2 separate regions of the Homo sapiens genome follow, and region 2 is linked to region 1. The links come from fine-mapping of genetic effects on gene expression. A gene starts in region 1. The other region holds a variant in brackets. All regions are shown on one strand. Distances are between the middles of the regions.

Region 1 (2,900 bases):
GTGTGTGCGGTGTGTGTGTGTGGTGTGTGTGGTGTGTGTGTGTGGTGTGTGTGGTGTGTGGGTGTGTGGTGTGTGGTGTGTATCTGTGCGTGTGTGGTGTGTGCTGTGTGTGAGTGTGGGGTGTGTGTGTGTGTGTGTGTGTGTGTGTGTGTGTGTGTGTGTGTCGGGGGAGGGGTATACGCAGTTTCCGTGCGGAAAGATGGTGTCTTTCCTTCACAGGGCTGCGCGGGCACCCATCCCCGCTGCAAAGCGCCCGGGCCAGGCGCGGCTTGCTCCGGGTCGGGGCGAGCTCGCTGCCCTCTGCGGCAGACAGCGATGCGCGCTCCCCGCCCCAGCTCCCGGCTCGCCCGGCGGCCCGCGCGCCCTCCCGGTGCAGCATGCGGGCGCTGTGACGTTCTCGGATAAATGCCGTGTAACTGTGTAGGCGAATGAGAGCTAAAAATAAGAACGGAAAATCTATCATTAAGGTATCATTGCGCCAGCGCAGCTATTTGAAGGCTCCCATGGTCCCCGGCGCCTGCGTTTGAAGCCCGCCTTCAGGCTTTGGGGGGTATTTGCAGAAAACTCCCAGCAGCGGCTCGCCAACCAGACCTCAGGGTGCACGGGGGGTGGCGCCGGTAATTATGGCAACTCTCAAAATAAAATAATATAAAATAAAGTAACCAACGTTCACCAACCACCACCCCATCTCACCCCCTGTACTGTCCTCAGGTAGCTGGGGAAGCCGCCGGGAGTGCAGCCGGATGCTGGAATTCAATGTGACCCGGCTGACTATGCAAAGACTAGGACTGGACGCTTTTGCAGCTCTATTTCGCCACCCACCTTCCTCCTTCCACCTCGTATTAGAAATAAAGTGGGGGGGGGGGGCGAGCCTTTGGAGGAGAAAATGACAACTGGCACTTAACCCCAGGTCTACAGTGCGCCGCGGTGGGGCGCAAAGACGCAAACTCCCGGGATGGCGAGCCTTCGGGGTTTCATTGGGTTAAACGAAAATTGATCTGATTTGCTTTTTAACATCCGAGGGAGAGAAGGGGAGATGAGGGGAGGGAGGGCAGGGTTTGAGTGTGTGCGTGTGCGTGTGCGTGTGTGTGTGTCTGGGGAGGGGGAGGAGGCACCAAGTTGCAGCCTGCGCGCGGCTCTGCGCCTCGGCGGGGCTGCGTGCGTGTGTCCCTGTCCGCGCTGCTGAAACGGGCTCTTCGAGGGATCGGCGTCACATGACTCCGCCTGCCCCTCGCCAGCGCGCAGATCGCCAGTCCCTCAGTTTGCCCGGCACCGGAGGAGGGTCGGGCGGCATCTTCCGGGTACTGGGGCTCTGCGGAGCGGAGAAGAGGTTCCAGCGGGGAATGGTATATCTGGATTCAAGAAGCCGCGGCTCGGCGCCAGATCCTGGAGTGTAGATATTTGGGGGGAGGGGAGAGCTAGAGGGAGCGAGCGAGCGAGCGCCAGAGAGAGGCAGCGCGCAGCGCGCACGGACGGGGGGCTGCTGCGCGGAGAAGATGTAAGCGCGTGGGGTCTCGCTGGCCTCTGAGCACCATGCAGAAGGGGATCCGGCTGAATGATGGCCACGTCGCGTCCCTGGGACTGCTGGCGCGCAAGGACGGCACGCGCAAAGGCTACCTGAGCAAGCGGAGTTCGGACAACACAAAATGGCAAACCAAGTGGTTCGCGCTGCTGCAGAACCTGCTCTTCTACTTCGAGAGCGACTCGAGCTCGCGGCCCTCGGGGCTTTACCTGCTGGAGGGCTGCGTCTGCGACCGCGCGCCCTCCCCCAAGCCGGCGCTGTCGGCCAAGGAGCCGCTGGAGAAACAGGTGAGGCGAGCGTCGCGTCCTGACCTCCCTGCGTCCCGGCCGCGGCCCTGGGGGCTCAGGGCCTTCGGCTGGCTGATGGCGCTTGAACTTTGGCCCCTCTACTCTTGGCGCCCTAGGCGCTCTCTGCACCCTCAGCGAGAGGGGAGGCTTGCTCCCAGCCAGGCGAGTGACTGCGGCGGGCAGAGGGGGCAGGGATTGAGGGCGGGGAGTAGATGTGGGCTGCGGCTGCCCTTCGCCGGACGAGCCCCGTGGGAGGCGGGTACAGAGGGGCCGACACCTGGAGATGCAGAGGAAGATGGGGTCCTAAGGACCAGAGACGATGAGTCTGGACACACGTCCAGCCAAAAATGGTGCTCCCAACCCCCACTCCCACCGCCCAGCCCTAATAGCCCCGATCGTCTGTTCTACACCGGGAACGTGTAATTCCCCGCGCTTAGGCATGGGAAGGGCAAGACGGAGGCGTCCGAGCGCTGCCAGCCCTTGCCTCGCCGCAGCTGAGGGCGGAGAGCGGTCTGCGCTAGCTCCTCGGAGTTGGGCTGGGGTTATGGGGCTACACGGGTCGGTTCGGTACCATCGAGCGGTGGTGGGCTCCCAGCTGGCGGCCGCCGGAGCAACAAGCCCAAAGATTCCCAAGGACCGCTCTGATGCGCCGGGGCTAGGGCCAGGGCTGCTGCGGAGGCAGCGGGACGAAGTGGGCGCTTCTCTCCTCCCCCGCCCCCTGCGCCGCCGCCGCCGCCGCAGTCGCGGCTATAGCGCTGCGCTCTGGTTTCCTGAGCTGCAAGGCTGAAGAGCCAGGCCTGGCTCTAACAGGGAGCCCGGGCGGGGTGGGGGTGAGCCTCTGGCGTGAAGGGAGGAGGGGCACCTGCAGAGAGAGCCACCTTTAAGCTTGGTGCGCTTTCCAAAAGCATCTGGTCCAGTCCCTTGCCACTAGGAAGATAAAGCAGATGATAGTGGATCCTAAAATGCCACTGCAGGCAGGAACCTTCCATCCATAGGGCCTAACGGCTGGTGATTGCCTAGATGGGGACACTGAGGCCCAGAGAGAGAAATTCACTTGCCCAGCGTCATGCAAGTTGTTGAGGCCGTCCCAA
Region 2 (2,900 bases), 57 kb after region 1:
GTTGTTTTTTTTTTCTTTTACTTAGCATTATCCCATAAGCATTTTCTCATGCCAAAAGCATGCTTTTTGATCGCTGTGTAATACTCCAGTACCCATGAAGGCACTGTCATTTATCTAACCATCTGCTATGGTTGGCTCTTAGAGTTGTTCCAATTTTTTATTGTTAGAAGTAATCATCTCTTCATAAGAAATTTTCTCCATATTAGAGATCATTTCCTTGGGATGGGTTTCCAATGAGCAGAATTGCTAAAACAAAGAATCCAAACATGTGAAAAGCTCTTGCTTCATACATATTGTCCCATTGTTCTCCAAGATGGCTGCACTGCTCTAGTTCCACAAGCAACAGACAGAAGAACCTCCTGCATCTCACCCTCAACCTACACCAAATGTCTTTCTTTTTTTTTTTCACTTTCTTAATTTGGTAGATAAAGGTGAGTGTTGGTGTCATCTCCATGATGGAGGCAAAGAAAATGGCTTAGGGAAGTAAAGGAATAGCAAAGGCTGCATAGGTGGAGGGCACAGAGCAGACCCAGGCCTGGCTCTCCAGAGCTCCCTTGCCCTCAGGCATGGAGGCTTCCCAGGGGGAAGTAGGCACTATTATTTTTCTCAAGTCAAAGACCCGTGTTTTTCTCTAAGGTCAAAATAAGGTGTCCTTAGAAAGATGGGGTCCGCATATTCTGCAGTTGCATTGTTGAAGACATTGTCCGTCAGGTGGTCAGACACCCATCACATGAGCTACCCTCTAAAGTTGATTACAAGGAAACCATGTTTCCTTTCTTAAATGGGACTTATAAGAAGATGTTTTGGCCGAGCACGGTGACTCATGCCTTTAATCCCAGCACTGTGGGAGGCTGAGGCAGGCAGATCACCTGAGGTCAAGAGTTCGAGACCAGCCTGGCCAACATGGTGAAACCCCGTCTCTACTAAAATTACAAAAATTAGCCAGGTGTAGTGGTGCACACCTGTAGTTCCAGCTACTCGGGAGGCTGAGGCAGGAGAATTGCTTGAACCCAGGAAGCAGAAGTCGCAGTGAGCCGAGATCTCACTACTGCACTCCACTCCAGCCTGGGCAACAGAACGAGACTCTATCTCAAAAAAAAAAAAAAAAAAAAAGAAAAGAAAAAAGAAGAAGAAGATGTTTCAAGGCCAGGCACAGTGGCTCACGCCTTTAATCCCACCACTTTGGGAGGCCAGGGTAGGCAGATCACTTGAGGGCAGGAGTTCAAGACCATCCTGGCCAACGTGGTAAAACTCTATCTCTACAAAAAACACAAAAATTCAAAAATTAGCTGGGTGTGGTGATGCACACCTGTAGTCCCAGCTACTTGGGAGGCTGAGGTGGGAGAATCACTTGAACACGGGAGGCAGAGGTTACAGTGAGCCGAGACCGCACCACTGCACTCCAGCCTGGGCAACAGAGCAAGATTCCATCAAATAAATAAATAAATAAAGATAAGGAAGATGTTTCACATGACCCCATCCCAGCCTATCAAATCGTTGAAGGGCAGATTTGGGGAGATTGGTTGGGACTTGGGGGCACTGGAAAG[G/A]CAAAGTATATACCCAGGAAGCTTGAGACAGAACTATAGGCAGAAAGGGCCCCACCTGGTGAACTAGATAATGCAGAGCCTGGAAGCCCTGCTTGGACAATGGCAGATGAACGAAGGAGCAGAGACTCATGTGTCATATGGTAGGAAATCCCTGGAATCAGGAGGTCAGGAGACCCAGCCCCAGGCCGGCTGCTGACTTGCCCTGTGACCTCAGATAGGCCACTTCTGTCTCAGGACGGAGACTGCAGGAGGGAGGGTGGCCTCTTGGGGAGTGTCCTAGGCCATAGCACCATAGGGCACGGGGACAGGCAGAGGGAGGAACTGGGCAGCCTTCCAGCTGCAACAGAAGCCTCAGCCGACCCCACAGGAAGCTCTGGAGAAGGGGTGACCTCACACTGGTGTCCTGAATTGAAGCAGGAGGACAGACCAGGCAAGGCAGCTTCCTCCAGCTGAGGGCAATGCCTGGAGAGGGACCCAGCTGACAGCCATCGGCCACCAGCACTCCTGGCAGCTGGGGGGATCCAGGTGGCACCCCACAGCGCCCACTCTACCTCCTCTCTCTGACACTCCCATCACAAGTGTCGACTAGACAGGGCCCCACGTCTCTAAGAGTCTGTGATTCTAATGTGGTCCCAATGATGGGGGCCCACCTACTAGCACTGGATAGGGCAGTGGTACTGGAGTCATCCCCAAGAGCAGAGATGTCTCTGGGGTGGGGAACTTGAACCTGGCCCCTGGCCTCTCTGGGTGTAGCTGGGGGAGCCAAGGGCCTAGGGGATTCTGTCCCCACCAAGCTGCCCTAGCCACCCGCTGACTGCCTCGTCCTTCCAGCTGACCTATTTGACATCCTGCTGCCCATGCTCAACATCTACCAAGAGTTCGTCCGCAACCACCAGTACAGCCTGCAGATCCTGGCCCACTGCAAGCAGAACCGTGACTTCGACAAGCTGCTGAAGCACTACGAGGCCAAGCCTGACTGCGAGGAGAGGACGCTGGAGACCTTCCTCACCTACCCCATGTTCCAGGTGGCGTCCGGCCCTGCCTGGGTGGGGTAGAGTCAGGGAGGCAGGTGTGGGGGATGGACCATGGCGGTGGGGGCACAGTGCTTAACGCACCCCAGCTCTGGGCTGCCAAAGGGGGCGGGGGAGGTGGTCAGGGCCAGCAGCCGACAATGCTGGGTGCAGGGCAAGCTGACTGTGGGCCTGTCCACGCCACCTTTCTCTCCTGGCTCCTGAGCACCCCACCCCACCCTCAGCCAGAGCAGAGCCCTAGACAAGACCCTGGAAGAGCCTCCAAGTTAGAGTCTGTGACCAAAGGGCAGCCTATCTCCTTCCTCAGTTCTGCTCATGGAAG

Alleles and levels. Alleles are on the strand shown, and positions count from the first base shown. SD is a standard deviation of normalised expression in the study named.
With allele G in place of A in region 2, the expression in prefrontal cortex of the gene that starts at base 1,252 in region 1 is lower (small effect, 0.31 SD a copy in GTEx).

Evidence for each region. PIP is the estimated chance that this variant, and not a neighbour inherited with it, causes the effect.
Region 2: its variant is the best candidate, but not a certain one, in a credible set for the expression of RASGRF1 in prefrontal cortex (GTEx, PIP 0.89).

Annotation. Positions count from the first base shown.
Region 1 is chr15:79,089,132-79,092,031 of GRCh38, reverse strand. It overlaps RASGRF1 (Ras protein specific guanine nucleotide releasing factor 1), which reads left to right and starts at 1,252. Exons shown (of 27, transcript NM_001145648.3): 1 at 1,252-1,809. The coding sequence starts at 1,534.
Region 2 is chr15:79,031,795-79,034,694 of GRCh38, reverse strand. It overlaps RASGRF1 (Ras protein specific guanine nucleotide releasing factor 1), which reads left to right. Exons shown (of 27, transcript NM_001145648.3): 7 at 2,379-2,572. Among named protein-coding and RNA genes, the nearest start is that of RASGRF1, 58 kb to the left of the region's middle. The variant G/A (reference allele first, on the strand shown) is at 1,548.